2 separate regions of the Homo sapiens genome follow, and region 2 is linked to region 1. Evidence: fine-mapped expression QTL. A gene starts in region 1. The other region holds a variant in brackets. All regions are shown on one strand. Distances are between the middles of the regions. Region 1 holds the start of PTGES (prostaglandin E synthase). Region 2 has its middle 22 kb from the start of PTGES.

The links. PIP is the estimated chance that this variant, and not a neighbour inherited with it, causes the effect.
Region 2: its variant is fine-mapped to the expression of PTGES in whole blood (INTERVAL, PIP above 0.99).

Annotation. Positions count from the first base shown.
Region 1 is chr9:129,750,774-129,756,103 of GRCh38, forward strand. PTGES (prostaglandin E synthase) reads right to left here and starts at 2,269. Exons shown (of 3, transcript NM_004878.5): 1 at 2,114-2,269. The coding sequence starts at 2,239.
Region 2 is chr9:129,772,034-129,777,399 of GRCh38, forward strand. No RefSeq gene overlaps it. Among named protein-coding and RNA genes, the nearest start is that of PTGES, 22 kb to the left of the region's middle. RefSeq lists enhancers at 3,033-3,599, 4,991-5,366, 5,137-5,366. The variant C/A (reference allele first, on the strand shown) is at 2,987.

The DNA of each region.
Region 1 (5,330 bases):
TGAGGACACTGAGCTCCCAGACTTTTCCAGGTCCCCAGGCTGGTGGGTGGAGGAGCCAGGGCCTGTGACTGTCACCTCCAGCAAGTCCTTCCTGGATGATACTTAGCGCCCAGAGCAGAGATAAGAGGGGGCCACGTTGTCATGAGGAACACCTCAGGAGCAGCCCAAGGAGTGGGGGTTTCCTTCTGCGGTGTCCCTGCCAATCAGGCAGAAAGGCTCTGGGACAGGTTCACCTCCTCCCTTCCCCGAATTCGTGTTAAAAGGAAATCACAGCTGGGCACAGTGGCTCACACCTGTAATCCCAGAACTCCAGGAGGCCAAGATGGGAGGATCACTTGAGCCCAGGAGTTTGAGACCAGCCTGGGCAACATGGCAAAAGCCATCTCTACCAAAAACATAAAAAATTAGGAGCAGTGACGCACACCTATAGTCCCAGCTACTTGGGAGGCTGAAGTGGGAGGATCACCTGAGCCCAGGAAGTCGAGGCTACAGTGAGCTATGATCGCACAATTGCACTCCAGCCTGGGCCACAGAGCAAGACCCTGTCTCTAAAATAAATAAATAATAATTAAAAAAAAAAAAAAAAAAGGAATCGCTGGCCTGCTGGTAAGAACCCAGGCCTCAGCCAGGTGCGGTGGCTCACGCCTGTAATTCCAACACTTTGGGAGGCTGAGGCGGGTGGATCACCTGAGGTCAGGGGTTCAAGACCAGCCTGGCCAACATGGTGAAACCCCATCTCTACTAAAAATACAAAAATTAGCAGGGCATGGTGGTGTGTGTCTGTAATGCCAGCTACCGGGGAGGCTGAGGCAGTAGAATTGCTTGAACCCAGGAGGTGGAGGTTGCAGTAAGCAGAGATCATGCCGCTGCACTCCAGCCTGGACAGCAGAAAAAAAAAACAAAACAGAAACCCCCGCCTCCAAGACAGGATGTGGGCTCTGAAGCTGGACACTGGAGTTCAAACCGGGCTGTGTGACCTTCATAAGTGATGTCTCCTCTCTGAGCCCAGGTTCCTCACCTAGAAAACAGGATGACTATGGCGCCTCCCCTGCCCTCAGGGCTGTGGCGGGGATCTCATGCTCAGCTCCGGGCCACATTCGGTCCTCTGGGAAGGATTCAATGAGTGAATGCAGCTGTTCTACTTGATGCCCGGATCCCATATCCCAGGACCAGCCAAGGCAGGGAGAAGTCAGAAGCTATCAGTGTGCTGTAGCCTCCGGGCATCCTATCACTTGGGCAGCTGCCCTGCCTTTAATCCTGCCTGTACCTGCAGCAGGGCCTGAGCCTGGCTTGTGGCCAAGATCCTCACTCCCCAGGATCCACCCGCATGCAGTGCCAGAGCCAGCCTTGCCTCACCTCGCCTTTGAACTGGACACAGGGGAAGACAGAGACAGTTTCAGGAAATGATTGCTTTATTAAAATACCTGGGGAGGAAGTAACAGGTGCCTGGGGTCTTTCTGCATTCTGCCGCCAGGACAGCCGACAAGCTCAGCCTATGACTTTGCAGACTCGCCAACCAGTGTGACGGACGCTACTGGAACTTGCCCCGGCCCAGCTCTGGGACTCGTTAATGTTGTTTTGGTTCAGGGGCTCGGATTAGTGGGGAAATTCCTCGCTGAGCACCCCGACGGTGCCCGGCTGGGAGCTGGCCTTTGGAGGCTACAGTGGGCTTGTTAGTGACATTTGCCAGGAGTTGGGAATTTCCACTTAAACGTTTCTCGGACTCCTGTTTTGCCGGTTCCCACTCCACCCAGATATCAGACCTCCCGTGCCGGGAAGCCACCAGGTTAGACAGAGGCTTTGTGCTGTCACGCTCCCACACTCCACCCTCCAGAACCTGCTTCTCTCACAGACACTCGCTGGCTCTCTCCATGCCAAGAACTCAGCCCGGTGGCACGGCAAGCGAGTAAGTGCTCTTAAGCCAGAGAGGAGAAGGTGCAGGCCTTGCTGACACGTGGGACTGGCAGGAAGCCCCCCGGCGGGGCTGGAAGAGGTGCTCACCTCCCAGCCCTGCACACACCTTGGCCATGTTTCCCTATCCCGGGGCTTTCCTGACAGGACGTGGAGAGAAGCAAGTATGACCCAGGCCGGGGACCCCCAGGGAGGCACATACCTTCTTCCGCAGCCTCACTTGGCCCGTGATGATGGCCACCACGTACATCTTGATGACCAGCAGCGTGCTGCAGAGCAGGAAGGCCGGGAGGGCCGGGCTGCTCATCACCAGGCTGTGGGCAGGCATCTCTGGCCAGCGCAGCTCAACTGTGGGTGTGATCAGCTCGACAGAGGAGCAGCCTGCAGGGAAAGCACAAAGTGGGAGGGGAGAGCCTTCCTGCAGCCAGCACCGCCCACGCCCCGCCCCACGGCAGCGGCAGCAGGGCCCCCTTCTCCTGTGAAGAGAAAGACAAGCAGTTGCCGGAGCTCCAAGAAGCAGAGAGTCTCCGGGTGTCCCGGACCCAGTCCCTGGCTCTGGAGCCCTCCTTCCAGGCAAATCCTCAAACACTTTCAAATCTGTTTCAAAGCTGTTTCCTTATCTACAGTGTGGGAGCATGTGGTGGTGCCTGCCTTCTAGGGAATGATGAGGCTGGGCACCTGGCAGGACCTCTGCACGTGGTGATTATCGCTGCCTCCTGCCCACCTCCGCAGGGTCAGGGTAGGTGGTGGGCATGAGAACCACGCCATGCGCCCCCACACTCAGCCTGGACAATGGAGCTGCAGCCACAATGGCATGACTTTGCCATCTGTGGCAGGCTGAAGGACGCCCTCCACCCCTAAAGACATCCATGTCCCAATCCCTAGAACCCGTGACTGTGACTATGTGGCAAAAGGGACTTTTCACATGGGATTTCGTAAGGATTTGAGATGGGAGAAATTATCCTAGTTTATCTGGGTGAGCCCAGAGTATACAGAGGGGCCCTTCCAAGAGGGAGGCAGTAAAATTAGAGAAAAGATATAAAAACAGAGGCAGCATTAAGAGAGGAGATGAAAGGACAGAATAGGGGTCAGACAGGAGAGACGCTAACCTGCTGGCCTTGAAGATGAAGGAGAGATCATGGCCCAAGGAATACCAGGGGCCTCTAGAAACTGGAAAAGGGGACGAAACAAACTCTCTGCGTTCAGACAGAACGCAGCCCTCCCGACACTTTGATTTTAGCCCTGTGAGACCCATTTCAGGCTTCATCCACCAGAACTGTCAGAGAATGAAGCTGTGTTGTTTTAAGCCACTAAGTCTGTGGTAATTTGCTATAGCAGGGATGGGGAACCAGCACGTGGCTCCACTGACTTCCTGAGCATCACTTGACTATCCTGGAACTCTTTCCCCAGTCAAATGCTTTGATTCTTCATCACAAGATCTCCCCGAAAGACCTATCAACTGACTCTTCAGTAGAAAGCATCACCAGGCCGGGCGCGGTGGCTCACACCTGTAATTCCAGCCCCTTGGGAGGCCAAGGGGGACAGATTACCTGAAGTCAGAAGTTCAAGACCAGCCTGGGCAACATAGGGAGACTCCGTCTCTACAAAAAAATGTTTTAATTAGCTGGGCATGGTGGTGCTCGCCTGTATTCCCAGCTACTCAGGAGGCTGAAGTGGGAGGATCACCTGAACCCAGGAGGCTGAGGCTGCAGTGAGCCATGTTCTCACCACTGCACTCTAGCCTGGGTGACAGAGCAAGACCCTGTCTCAAAAAAGAAAGAAAGCATCAACGTTTGTTTTCTAAGATTCTTTGAATCCCTCACCTCAAAATCCTCACCTTGGCCAGGTGGCTCACACATGTAATCCCAGCACTTTGGGAGGCCGAGGGGGGCAGATTATCTGAGGTCAGAAGTTCGAGACCAGCCTGGCCAACGTGGTGAAATCCCCTCTCTACTAAAAATACAAAAATTAGCCAGATGTGATGGCAGACACCTGTAATCCCAGCTACTTGGGAGGCTGAGGCGGGAGAATCGCTTCAACCTGGGAGGTGGAGGTGCAGTGAGCCAAGATTGCACCACTGTACTCCAGCCTGGGCGACAGACCGAGACTCTGTCTCAAAAAAAATCCTCACCTTGCTGCATCCTGCCCGCTTCCCCGGGTTCTGGCAGGACCTCCACAAGGTCAGGGATCTTTTTTTTTTTTTCTTGTGAGACAGACTCCTGCTCTATCACCCAGGCTGGAGTGCAATGGCGTGATCTCTGCTCACTGCAACCTCCACCTCCAGGTTCAAGCAATTCTCCTGCCTCCGCCTCCCAAGTAGCTAGGACTACAGGTGCCCACCACCACGCCCAGATAATTTTTGTATTTTTAGTAGAGACGGGGTTTCACCATGTTGGCCAGGATGGTCTCAATCTCTTGACCTTGTGATCCACCCACCTCGGCCTCCCAAAGTGCTGGGATTACAGGCATGAGCCACCGCACCTGGCCAAGGGCAGGGATCTTGTACACGGTTCTTGCTCATTTATTTTCGCCAACATATTTGGCTTTGCTGAGAGGTGCCCTGGGGAAGTGGGGCAAAGGGGAAAGGGAGAAACCAGTCTCCCATGCCTACTTCACTCTTGGGCTTGACCAGGTGCTTTGGGACAGCACCTGCCCAGAGAGACAGCTGTGTCAGTCCAACCTATGCCCCAAAGCAGCAGAGATCAAAGGGAAGATTGGCCAGAGCTAGATTTAGCCAGCCTCGAATCCCAAAGCCAGCCCTCAGCTGTAGCTGTGTGGCCTTAGGCAGGCAGGTTCCTCCTCTGAACCAGTTTCCTCAGCTGTAAAATGCAGCTGACCCTAAGTCACTCCCCAGCGCAGTTGTGGGAGCTAAATAATTATGAAGCCCCTGGAACAAGTAGGCACTCCGTTCAGTATCATCCTCTGAGCTTCCGTTTCCTCCTGCTCAAAGGGAATAATGATCCCTACCTAGTAGGGTTGTCAGGAGGGAGACTCATAGAAATCCCTGCCCTTGTTGCTGGGGGAGGTGGGTGTGAGCAAGGTGGGGGTGGTGCCTTGCCCATTTGCTGTGTGCCAAGCAGTCCTTTATCCGAACAAAAGATGTGCTTGATAAACTGACTCCCGTGGGGAACTGCCAGGCCAGGCTGTCCCGGCCCCACAAGATAAATGATAGGTCACCATACCATCAGGGACGGAACATGGAAAGTACAAGATGCCCTGAGACACGTTTTATCTCTGGTTGTCTGTTGGAGGAGCTGTGCAAGCTCGCTTCTGGCTGATATTTCTGTCGGAGAAGAGAGAATCCCTGCCTCTCTCGCCCCCAGCCCGTGGGAACCCCTGCAGGTAGCTACCTTCCTTGTCAAAAAGCTCAGCTATGAGGTTGGGGTCTGGTGGCTGTACCACCCCCAGAATCGTGGACC
Region 2 (5,366 bases), 21 kb after region 1:
ATTGGGCAGCACAGTTCTATAAAAAGAGATGGGTGAGAGTTATTTACTTTTTACTACATAATAAAGTGTTCTAGGGCCAGGTGCAGTAGTGGCTCACACCTGTAATCCCAGCACTTTGGGAGGCCAAGGCAGAAAGACTGTTTGAGACCAGGAGTTCGAGACCCCATCTCTACAAAGAAACAAAAAGCTAGCCGGCCATGGTGGCACAGGCCTATAGTCCCAGCTACTCGGGAGGCTGAAGCAGGAGGATTGCTCCAACCCAGAAGCTCGAGGCTGCAGTGAGCTATGATCATGCCTGTGAATAGCCACTGCACTCCAGCCTGGGCAACATGGCAAGAGCCCATCTCAAAAACAAAACAAACAATACAAAGATGAAGCTGCCTTTGAGGGAGGTGCCCAAGTCGCGGGCTGATTTTGAGCAAGCTGGTCTTAAAGGTCACCTCTACAAACTCTAACTTAATGCAGAAAGAGCAGCAAAAATCACTCTTCCCTCCATCTGTGAAATGGGAAATGTTAAAAAAGAAACAAAAACAAAAACAAAAAAAACTCCCCTTTCCATCCAAGATAATAATCCCAAACTAGGGGCTGAGTTTCACTGTTTGAAAAGTGCTTATTTTCTGTAACCACTTCATGCATTAAGCTTTCTTTTTTCTTTTTTTTTTTTTCTGAGATGGAGTCTTGCTCTGTCACCCAGGCTGGATTACAGTGGTGTGATCTCAGCTCACTGAAACCTCCGCCTCCTGGGTTCAAGCGATTCTCCTGCCTCAGTCTCCGGAGTAGCTGGGATTACAGGTGCCTGCCACCACGCCCGGCTAATTTTTTGTATTTTTAGGAGAGACAGCGTTTCACTATGCTGGCCAGGCTAGTCTCGAACTCTCACCTCAAGTGATCCACCCACCTTGGCCTCCCAAAGTGCAGGGATTACAGGCGTGAATCAGCGTACCCTGCCACATTAAACCTTTTTTTTTTTTAGACAGAGTCTGGCTCTGTCACCATGCTGGAGTGCAGTGGTATGATGTTGGCTCACTGCAACCTCCGCCTCCCAGGTTCAAGTGATTCTCTTCCCTCAGCCTCCTAAGCAGCTGGGACTACAGGCGTGCGCCACCACACCTGGCTAATTTTTGTATTTTTAGTAGAGACAGGGTTTCACCATGTTGGCCAGGATGGTCTCGATCTCTTGATCTCATGATCCACCCACCTCGGCCTCCCAAAGTGCTGGGATTACAGGTGTGAGCCACCGCACCCAGCCACATTAAACTTTCTTGACCCATTTGCAGACAAGGGGAATCCGAGTCCTGGAGAGGCCAAGTAACCTGCCCACGATGGCCCATCAGCTAAGGAGCAGGAAGGAGAGAAGCTCTGAGCCCCTGCCTGGTTACCACCAGGCTCTACTGCTTCCTAGCTGAGCACCATACTGAGCCTCACTTCTTCCTTCTCTAAAATGGACATGATAATAGACCTTCCTCCTAGGATTACTGAGATAGTCCAGGTAGGAAATCATACCTGGTGTTACATGTAAGCTATCACTGCTATTGGTATTGCTGTTGTTATTTCAACAACTGAGACTCAACCAGGCCAGGCTAATCCCAGAGGCAAAGCTTTTATGCAGAGGACAAGCTTTTAACCAGTCCCACCAGCTAAAAGGGGTAGAAAGTGAGTAAACCAACCACATTTACTCTGAGACAGTCAACAAATACACAGCAGCCGCTTAGGACACACAAGGAAGTTAACTCATCCCCCTCATGACCTTGGGTCGCCAGGGTTAGATGTGCTTCTGCCAACATAGCCCGAGGAGGAGGGAGTGTTTTGTGGGAGCCGCTTAACACCCTGTCCTCCGCACCCGGTGAGGTCAGCACCCACTTTCCCACAACTATTGGGTAAACATACACCCAGCAAACCCTGCCTGAGGCCCAGGGCCAGGGACTCACGTGTGAAGGTCTGCAGCCTTCCACTGACTATTAGTGCAATGGGGTAGAGACTGGTAGAGAAAGCATTGTCTCAGGCTGGGTGCAGTGGCTCATGCCTGTAATCTCAGCACTTTGGGAGATCGAGGCAGGAGGATCACTTGAGCCTTAGGAGTCTGAGACCAGCCTGGGCAATACAGGGAGATCTTGTCTCTACAAAAAGTTAAAAAAAAAAAAAATAGCCAGGCATGGTGGTGTATGTCTGTGGTCCTAGCTACTTAGGAGGCTGAGGAGGGAGGATCACTTGAGGCTGGGAGGTCGAGGCTGCAGTGAGCCATGATCATGCCACTGCACTCCAACCTAGGTGCAAGAAAGAAAGAAAAGAAAGAGAGAAAGAGAGACAGAGAGAAAGAAAGAAAGGAAGAAAAAAGAAAGAAAGAAAGAAACAAAGAAACAAACAAACAAAGAAGGAAGGAAAGAAACAAAGAAAGAAAGAAACCAACAAAGAAAGAAAGAAAGAAGGAAGGAAGGAAAGAAAGAAAGAAACAAAGAAAGAAAGAAAGAAAGAAAGAAAGAAAGAAAGAAAGAAAGGAAGGAAGGAAGGGGAGAGAGAAGGAAGGGAGGGAGGGAGGGAGGGAGGGAGGAAGGAAGAAAGGGAGGGAAGGATGGGTTTGTCTCTCAACGTAAGAACCAAAATGAAGACATGTGTGTCTACCAGGTGAGGAGAGAAGTACGGAGAAGAAAGGGGAGGGTTGGTGGGTCCCCCAGGAGCCTGGTTGGCTGGTTGGAAACCAGAGGGTGTACTGGACAAGGCCCAGAATGCGGACCTGCCTGGGCCCCAATAAGGGGTCCCTCCCCATCCACAGGTAGACGCATCGCCCCGAGGTAGACACATGTCCCCTAGGGAAGAAGCCTTCGGCTACTCCTCACGTGCAAGTCACATGCTCCTCTCCCTGCTGGCACCACCATGGCCACAGCTGATGGGCAGGGGTGAGCACCTGGCTGCAAGCAGCCAATGGCGAGGCCAGCCAGCAGCCAATGAAATCAACAGCCCGATGTGGGCCTGGGCTGAGACCCACCCC[C/A]CAGAGGAGGCTGGGCTCGTGGCCAAGGACTCGGCTGCCAGCAGCAGGAGCGGCCACAAGAATGTGTACCCCTGGGGATGACAAGAAGCCCCTACAGTGAAATCCACTTCGGCTCTTCACGGGCCCTGGGGTCTTCACCTGGGTCCTGTGCCCACGAGGTCTTGGGCCCCAGCATCCTCACAGTAAACCCCTTTATCCCGGGGTCCTCAGTGCACGTCTGGCCCAGCAACGGCAATGAAACCAACAAACTGCCACACACTAGAGCTGGGTCCTGCGGCTCTGCCACCTGCTCTGTCAAACGCTGGGGTCCCCAGAAGCCACGGCCCCTGCCAAAGGTCATTTTGGGTCTCATTTGTCATCTGGGTACTTAGGGTAAAACGATATTTTCTGTGCAAGCCCCTCATTGCTTCCCTGTCTCTCCCATCCCCTAACTCCACCACCATGAAGGCCTCCCTGCTCTCACCCACTCCAAGAGCTGGATTTTCCCTGGCACAGAGAGCATAGCACCGACCCAGACAAGCCCTTTGCCACATGCGTCCTGCCAGGCATGATTCTGGCCACAAGGATGCATCAACTGCCACTGGAGCTGTGGGTGTGTTGTCACTGTGAAGCACATTGCAGCAGCAGCTGAGAGGAGAGACCAACCAGCACCCTGGGGAGGGGGCTGCATGCAGAGGTTGGGAAGTCACACTTTGGCTTCAAGCCAAGCAGAAGATCTGGCCCAAGAAAACAGGCTCATACCTCCTGGACAGGGTGGCCAAGAGACAGAGCTTCAGCTCAGGCTGGGACGCCAGTTGGGCAATAAAATTAATGACAATAATTATTATTATATAACAATGTTGATGACATTACTGGCCAACTTTACCTGCCAGACACTATGCTTGGTGCTTTATGTAGATCAGTTCATTGCCCTCATGTAGCAATCCTAGGAGGTGGGTCTATTATTATCTCTATTTTATTTTATTTTATTTTATATTTTTTAGAGGCAGAGTCTTGCTCTGTCACCCAGGCTGGAGTGCAATGGTGTGATCTTGGCTCACTGCAACCTCTGGCTCCCAGTCTCAAGCAATTCTCCTGCCTCAGCCTCCCGAGTAGCTGGGACTTCAGGTGCGTGCCACCACACCTGGCTAATTTTTTTTGTATTTTTTAGTAGAGACAGGGTTTCACCATGTTTGCCAGGCTGGTTTTGAACTCCTGACCTCAGGTGATCCACCTGCCTTGGCCTCCCAAAGTGCTGGGATTACAGGCATGAGCTACCTCGCCCGGCCTAATATCCCCATTTTAGAGATGAGAAAATTGAGGTTCAGAGGAGTGACATGACTTAACCAATGTCTGTGCTAAACTACAGTAAGATAGATAGATAGATAGATAGATAGATAGATAGATAGATAGATAGATAGATAGATAGATACCTATGTCTAACTACCTACCTACCTACCTATTGACCTATCTACCTACCTACCAACCTGCCTATCTCTCTATCTATGTGATATATATGAAAAAGACTCTTCAGAGAACTGACTCTGCTGATGCCCAGAATAGGGTGCGGGAGACTCATCAAGCTGATCTCCCATGCTGGGCCCAGCTGGATGTTCTGACTTTACCCAGAGTATCCAGATTTCAATTAACTATCTCGGAACCACAGTAAAGGAGCGTGTGCGCTATAGTTGATTGCTCAGCCCGAGCACAGGGCTGGGTAATCTTACTCCCAGAGGGTTCTGAGGTTGGAGCCTGGAATGGACCAGCTCTCTCCCTTGCCATTCAGCCCCACCCCCACCCCTGGAGCCAGGGACTCAAGCAGCCCAGCTTGACAGTCCTGGGAGGCCTGACCCCCGGCTGGGATCTCGTCATCAGCAATGCACCCAGGCTCTGGGGACAGCATGGTCTAGGGCCTCTGAATTGGCCATTATCCTAGCGGGAAGAAATGCTTCTCCCTCCAGGCTGAAAGCTGTCTTTGCTCCCAGTGATCACTTGCTCCCCAGCTCTGCACAGATTGACCCGCACACCTAGGCAGGCAAACACAGCAGTCCTAAGACCAAGAGCCAGGGTGAGGCCCTGGCAGAACAGCCATTGGAATGGGATGCCGGAGTGTCCCCAGATGGCGCCCGGGGGTGGGGTGGACCTCTTGCCACAGCAGAGTCTCCAACTGGAGCCTGGGGTTCACCCAAGACAGCCGTGGCCCTCCCTCTCACCACTTACCCCGTCCCCAGGCGCCTCTGCCTGAGCTCATCAGGCAATGACCGCAGTGACGTCACCCGGGAGGCCACGGCCAGCTTGAAATCCAGGGAGCTCCAGGATCCTGCCTGCTCCTCCCTCTCTCTCTAGCATGACTCAGGCAGGGACTGGCCCTGGGCTGCGGAAAGGCTCTCCACTTTTACAC